Linked DNA regions of Homo sapiens. The protein of the gene in region 1 interacts with the protein of each later gene in a biochemical or structural test. Each region holds a gene or a part of one and is shown on either strand. Other genes may lie near its edges. The genes, in order: SLC26A8 and RACGAP1.

Region 1 (3,924 bases):
CAGGCAGATCACGAAGTCAGGAGTTTGAGACCAGCCTGGCCAATATGGTGAAACCCTGTCTCTATTAAAAATACAAAAATTAGCCAGGCGTGTGGTATGCACCTGTAGTCTCAGCTACTTGGGAGGCTGAGGTGGACAAATCACTTGAACCTGGGAGGCGGAGGTTGCAGTGAGCCGAGATCATGCCACTGCACTCCATCTGGGTGACAGAGTGAGACTCTGTCACAAAAAACCAAAACAAAACAAGACAAAAACTTAGCTAATTAGAAGGCCTTTCCTAGCAAGTATAAAGCCTTCTGATACTGGTTTTCTCTCCCCCCACAGATATGCAATGCCTTTCAAAACGCCAACATTTTGATACTCATTGCAGGGTGTCACTGTGAGTATCCTTCACCCTATGAGAGGGCTGTTTTGCACCCTGGGTCCTCTGCTCCCCAAGTATCTGACATTGTGTGTGTTCTGGGTTTGGTTTTTAGCTTCCATAGTCAGGGCATTTGAGAGGAATGATTTCTTTGACGCTGGCATCACCAAGACCCAGCTGTTCCTCAGCGTTCACGACGCCGTGCTGTTTGCCTTGTCAAGGAAGGTCATAGGCTCCTCTGAGTTAAGCATCGATGAATCCGAGACAGTGATACGGGAAACCTACTCAGAAACAGACAAGGTCAGACAAACCGACAAAGCATGAGGTTGGGGGAAGGGATTGAGGGCAGTGGGGGGATGGGTGAGGGGTGGTTGGGGGCTGGGAGTCAGGATTCCTGATCAGATAGAGGAATAATGTCCAGGAAAGGTATTTAGTATGGCTGTACCAGAATCTGGGATGTTGAAATGCACCCTTACCACTTGGTAAATAGCAGTGGATCTGAGCAGCCAAGTGCCCTCACTGTCATGGCATCAGGGTTCCATTCAAGAAATTTCCCTAACTGAAGAGAGGGTTTGCCCAACCCAGCACAGACCTCAAGGATCCTTCTACAGCATTCTTGGTTAGTGTCTATTACCAGTTGCTAAATATTCTAAATGTCTCCCCTAGCTATACCTTTAGAATTCCTCCCCACCCCACCCACTCTTGGGATGAATAATAATACTAATGAACTAGCAGAGATTCAGATCTATAATCTTGTCTAATACCTCAGCTTTATTACCTTTACATTGTTGTGGTATGAGATTTACTCAAGCTGACCAAATGCAAAGGAGAATAATATATAAGTCTGAATTTTCAGCCTTTTATTAATACTGAGACCTGGCTGAGTGCGATGGCTCACGCCTGTAATCCTAGCACCTTGGGAGGCCGAGGCAGGTAGATCATGAGATCAGGAGTTCGAGACCATCCTAGCCAACATGGTGAAACTCCTTCTCTACTAGAACTACAAAAATTAGCCAGGCATGGTGGCGGGCACCTGTAGTCCCAGTTGCTTGGGAGGCTGAGGCAGAATTGCTTGAACCCGGGAGGCAGAGGTTGCAGTGAGCTGAGATCACGCCACTGCACTCCAGCCTGGGCGACAGAGTGAGACTCTGTCTAAAAAAAAAAAAATACTGAGACCTGGGCCTACTTTAGCATTTTCAAATCAGTACCTGTGTAGGTTAAAGGTTTCCAAAAACAAAAAAAGGAAATTAAAACAGATGGGCACTAAAATATTATCTAATATTATCTAATGACTAGAAATCATTATTAAACAAAGCCTAGTTGATGAAATGAGACACCACATCTGAAACAGTTAAGACCGTACAACGGGCGGGCGAGATGGCTCACGCCTGTAATCCCAGCACTTTGGGAGGCCAAGGCAGGCGAATCACTAGGTCAGGAGATCGAGACCATCCTGGTGAAACCCCATCTCTACTAAAAATACAAAAAAATTAGCCGGGCGTGGTGGCACGCGCCTGTAGTCCCAGCTACTTGGGAGGCTGAGGCAGGAGAATCGCTTGAACCCAGGAGGCAGAGGTTGCAGTGAGCCGAGATCGCGCCACTGCACTCCAGACTGGGCGACGGAGTGAGACTCTAAAAAAAAAAACAAAAAAACACACACACACACAACTAGTTAACTGGTAGTTAATAAAAAAACAACTAGTTAACTAGTAGTTAATAATTAGTAATGACTAACTAATTGGTTTGAATTATGCAGTCTGCTTTTACTATAAATGGAAGTTTCTCTATTTTTTAATTTATAATTATGATACTCGATATATTTGTTTTTACATATTTAGTCATATCTATTAATGTTTCCTTTTCTTATTATATTTACTTTTTATTTAGAAAGTCATTCCCTCTTAGAAGGTAAATAAGACACATTTTCTAGATTTTTATGTTTTTATTTTTTATATGTTATACTCTTTAATGTAAATAGAATGTATTTCAGTATACAGGTATTGAAGGGTAATCTTTATTTTTTTTTTATTTTTGAGACAGTCTCATTCTGTCACCCAGGCTGGAGTGCAATGGCATGGTCTCGGCTCACTGCAACCTCTGCCTCCTGGGTTCAAGCGATTCTCCTGCCTCAGCCTTCCAGGTAGCTGGGACTACAGGCGCCCGCCACCACACCTGGATAATTTTTATATTTTTAGTAGAGACAGGGTTTCACTATGTAGGCCAGGCTGGTCTTGAACTCCTGACCTCATGATCTACCCGCCCCAGCCTCCCAAAGTGCTGGGATTACAGGCATGAGCCACTGCACTCAGGCTTAATCTTTATTTTTTATCTATGTAGCTAACTATTTTGGGCTATATGCCATCTATCTTAGTTCATTAGTGCTACTATAACAAAATATCTGAGACTGGGTAATTTGTAAATAATAGATATTTATTTCTCACAGTTCTGAATGCGAGAAGTCCAAGATCAAGGTCCTGGCAGTTTCAGTGTCTGCTGAGGGCTTCTTCCATCTTCTCTCAGCAGCATCCCCACATGGCAGAAGGTGGAAGGACAAAAGGGTTTATGCTAGCCCTCCAGCCCTTTTATAAGGCACTAATCCATTCACAAGGGCAGAGCCCTTATGACTTAATCACTCCCCAAAGGCCTCACCTCTTAATACCACCACAATGTGGATGGATTTTGGAAGCCACTCATGCAAATCATACCACCATCCAACCATCTATTGAATAAGCCTTCTTTCCCCTACTGATATGTTATTTTCATAAAATATTATATTCTTATGAAAACTAAAGTGTATTTCTAGTTTAGTTGTGGATGTCATTTTTCTGTATAGCTTCAGTATCACAGTGTTTTTTGTTTTTGTTTTTGTTTTTTGAGACAGAGTCTCACTTTGTCGCCCAGTCTGGAGTGCAGTGGCACAATCTCGGCTCACTGCAACCTCCGCCTCCCAGGTTCACGTGATTGTCCTGCCTCAGCGTCCTGAGTAGCTGGGCTTACAGGCATGCGCCACCACACCTGGCTTATTTTTGTATTTTTATTTGAGACGAGGTTTCACCATGTTGCCCAGGCTGGTCTCGAACTCCTGACCTCAGGTGATCTGCCCACCTTAGCCTCCCAAAATGCTGGGATTACAGATGTGAGCCATCGTGCCTAGCCATCACACTGTTTTTATTAGTATTGCTGTATAATACACTTTAACATTTGGTTAAGAAGTCCTATGTCATCAGTGTTCTATTTCAAAATTTGCTAAGTCATTCTCACCAATTTATTCTTCCAAACCAACTTTTGAATCTTTTGTCAGGTCCCCACCCCACAAAAACAAATCTTATTGAAATAATCATTAGAGTTGTATTAAAAATATAAAATCCCTTGAGAATTTATATCTTTATAGTATTCATTCTTCTTATCCAGAAACATGAACTGTCTCTACATTTATTGTCTTCTTAAATGTTTCATTCATAGTAAGGTTTTGTGACTTTCTTCACATGGGAAAATCTTAGATACTTTATATGTTTTACTTTTTTGTTTTTTTGAGACAGGGTCTCACTCTGTCACCCAGGCTG
Region 2 (3,924 bases), on another chromosome or scaffold:
TTAATATAAGGTATTACTTTCTATCATCTCGGCATTCACTTATATATCGTGAGACTATAAGACAGCTCAATACCACGGCAAAACTTCTATCTGTCCAAGAATTCAAAAAGGAAAATTTCATGGTGCTAGGATGTTGAAAACTGGTTGTTTAAAAAAAAGCTTTTTTAGGGGGGGTTTTAAGTCTTAAATTACAATATAACCTGTTCTCTTGTCCATTTTTTTTTTTTTAATTTTTTGAGACAGAATCTTGCTCTGTCCCCCAGGCCAGAGTCCACTGGCGCCACCTCAGCTGACTGCAACCTCTGCTTCCCAGGTTCAAGTGATTCTCCGGCCTCAGCCTCCTGACACTGTTCTACTCTTCCTGTTCATGTCCATCAACTACGCTACTCACTGACCTACCCTATCCCATACCCTACTGACTTCCAATTTTGATTTCCCTATTTTTATCATTCTCTCAGTCGCTCAGTTCCAAACTTCAGAATCACCTCTGGTTCCTCCCCTTCCCACAGCATAATCACTAAACCTTGTGTACTCTTCTCTCATGTATCTACCATACCCACCCCCTTATCACTTGCAGGTTGTCACCACTCACTTCAATTGCACTCCCTTCCTCCAGTCCTTCCCCTACTGCTTCAGGCAGTTGCCACTCAGATACAAACTCTTTGCACTTGAATTAAACTTTACCATATGATTCTGCCCTGTGTCCCAGCTAGAATATAAATTTGAGGGGAGAAACCTTACATGCGGCACTACTATATTACACACACAAGCATGTAGCATTTAATATGATGCTCACAAAAAAAAATTGATAAGTGTTAATTCAGAGAACAAACACACACATATCTGTGATGCTATGGTCAAAAGAATTTCCATTCTACCTCAACATCAACGTGTAATATAGTTTAAAGCAAAAAGAACAGTTAAAAGCGGGAGAGGGAGCAGAAGTCCTGGGACAAGATGGGTGTGGTGGTGCGTGCCTGTAGTCCCAGCTATTCAGGAGGCTGAAGTGGGAGGATCACTTGAGTCTAGGAGTTTGAGACCACCCTGATCATCACAAGACCCCCTTCTCTTAAAATAAATAAATAAATAAATAAATAAATAAAAAGGTCCTGGGACAAACCTTTAGCTCTTCTATCTACCAGTAGTATAATCTTCAGTAAATCACTTAAATTCCATGACTCATCTATAAAGTGAAAACAATAACACTTGCTCTATTTACCTCATAGAATATTACAAAAATTTTAAAATGTATAAGTTTACAATCTCACTACCAAAATATAAGGTATCTTTTAGTTGGTATGAAGTGAGTTTCTTTTGTTTAGGTTTGGTTTTGGTCTGATAGTTGTTACTTCCATCCTAAAACAGTGATTCTCAAATCTAGGTGTTTTCCCCCCTAGGCTGTCTCCAAATAAGGATATCAGTAAATTCAGAATTTTAGACCATTTTTAAAAATAATACTATACAATTAGAAAGAAAAGAATCCAGTATTTACTAGGTGCTTTGAAATGATTCGGGCACTAAACTAGACACTTCACGTACACTTTTTCTTTAAGTGAATTTGACTTTTTTTCTGAGACGGTGTCTTGCTCTGTCACCCAGGCTGGAGTGCAGTAGCACCATCTCGGTTCACCGCAACTTCCATTTTCAGGGTTCGAGTGATTCTCCTGCCTCAGCCTCCCGAGTAGCTGGGATTACAGGTGCCCACCACCAGGCCCAGCTAATTTTTTTTTTTGTATTTTTAGTAGAGATGGAGTTTCACCAAGTTGGTCAGGCTGGTCTCGAACTCCTGACCTCTAGCAATCTGCTTGCCTCGGCCTCCCAAAGTGCTGGGATTACAGGCGTGAGCCACCATGCCTGGCCTCACTAACTTAATTATCTCCATTTTACAGACAATGGGCAACTAAGTCCAGAAACCTTAAATTAACCAATAAATGTCGAGTTCTCATTGAAACCCAGGTCTGAGTCCAAAATCTATATTCTCTCCAACCCAACACATTGAAGAGATAAGTTACAAAAATATCAATTAGACCATATATGTTGCAGACCTACTCAGAGACCTCCTGCAAACCATAACATGTCATACAAACAGCAACACATATAAAACACAAATTATAGCTGGAACCCAGACCAAGAAGAATCAAGGAAACAGCAAAATTTGGCCAGGTCTAGGCTTTTAAACAAGCTGTTCTAGATGAGGTTTGCTGCTTCTGAAGAGTTATTTTTTCCTCTAACATAGATTTACTTAGGGTAATCCAAAAATGGCACTAGCAGAATATAATCCTCTTCTCTTTATATGCTAGGGGACCATATATTTTTATTAACATTCTACAGAAGTGACTCTCAGGAATTATTTATAGATGACAAAAATATCTTTCTATATCAGTACTAACTCTGATATCTCAGCCAAATTGTAACTCAAAAAGCTAAAATTTACTCACCCTATTCAACGTCAATTGAAAATAGTTGTAATTTTCCTGCTGGGTCACATTTTCACCCTCATGAATACTTGTTTATTTCCCCCCATGTATTATTTAGTCCATAGCTAGGAGATACACTAATGTGAAAGGAAACAAAAACAAAGTCATATTGTAGTACATTGCTTTTGCAGCTGTAAAACAGCTGTCACTTTCCACAACAGAGACTGCTGCCTTTTCGGGAAAGCTGAAACGATCCCTGCGTGCAGCAAGAAACTCAGTTTGTGGAGCACTTTAAACCAAAAGGTGCTAGAGAATCTCAGCTGTTATTGATGGGGAACCCCAGAGGTGGAGAAGTCAGTATGTTACAGATTCCCAATCTGTGAGTATCCCTAAGGGAGCAATCTGGAAACACCATGAAAGAGTCTCAGCTGGATGTGATTGCTTTGAGCCCCCAATTTAATTTCAATCACCCAGCCAAGAGGTAGATATCATCCTTCAGAAAAACAGACTATTACAGATCTTACTGCAGGGTATCCTGGGAAAAGTCTCTATCCTCTTCTTCCTCCTCCTTCAAACAACATTATTAAGAGACCTATATATCAGGTTTTTTAGATGCATCAAGGGTGTTAAATACTTTAAGACAAAGCAATGAAAGGTTGCTGGAGTTTTTCAGGAAAGTGTTTTAATGAAAAACTTTCCCACAAACATTGCTAAATCTGGAGATTTCCAAGAAATCAACAATATAGATTCCCTGCTGTCAAGGAAAACCATTCTCAAAGATAATCTCAGTACTTTAAGATCCTTTCATAGGAACACATTTGAGGACAATGTGAGGACAATTCTTTTCCTGAAATGTCCAGCTTCTGCTTCACTGTATCGAAAGTCTCTAATACAACTGGCGGACAGAAGGATTATCTTGAAACCAAATGTTCTTTATAAGCAAATCACTTGCAGAGAGTAAACAAAATGTTCTCAATCCAACATGAAGACTAAAATAAGGAAGGGAAGATTTGAATTGTGATTTTTCAGAAAATTACTAGAAGTTCAGCATACTGAATACCTCTTTTTTTCCCTGTGAATTCTTCCTATTCTGGTCTTCCATCCTTCAAGGTCTAGAATAAGTCTCACCAATTCACTGAAGCCTTCCCTAACCATTTCAGTCCAAAATGATTTCCTTTATTATCTATAACATTCATTTAGCAGATACAAAAATACTGTTTATTATTAATCTTCTATGTTCAAAAAGTTAACAGTAAAACAGGCTAGGTGTGGTGGCTCACGCCTGTAATCCCAGCACTTTGGGAGGCTGAAGCAGGTGGATGACCTTAGGTCGGCAGTTTGAGACCAGCCTGATCAACATGGAGAAACCCTGTCTCTACTAAAAATACAAAATTAGCCAGGCATGACGGTGCATGCCTGTAATCCCAGCTCCTCAGGAGGCTGAGGCAGGAGAATCGCTTGAACCCGAGAGGCAGAGGTTGCAGTGACCCAAGATGGCGCCATTGCA

The links.
Region 2: the proteins of SLC26A8 (region 1) and RACGAP1 form a complex in vitro, tested with the Homo sapiens proteins (one study listed by BioGRID).

What each region holds. Positions count from the first base shown.
Region 1 is NC_000006.12:35,947,900-35,951,823, reverse strand, and holds part of SLC26A8 (testis anion transporter 1), read left to right. Parts: intron 1-324; coding exon 325-379; intron 380-476; coding exon 477-661; intron 662-3,924. UniProt on the Homo sapiens protein: Antiporter that mediates the exchange of sulfate and oxalate against chloride ions across a membrane. Stimulates anion transport activity of CFTR.
Region 2 is NC_000012.12:50,018,624-50,022,547, forward strand, and holds part of RACGAP1 (rac GTPase-activating protein 1), read right to left. Parts: intron 2,555-3,924; exon of another isoform or gene 2,439-2,554; intron 1,184-2,438; exon of another isoform or gene 1,121-1,183; intron 1-1,120.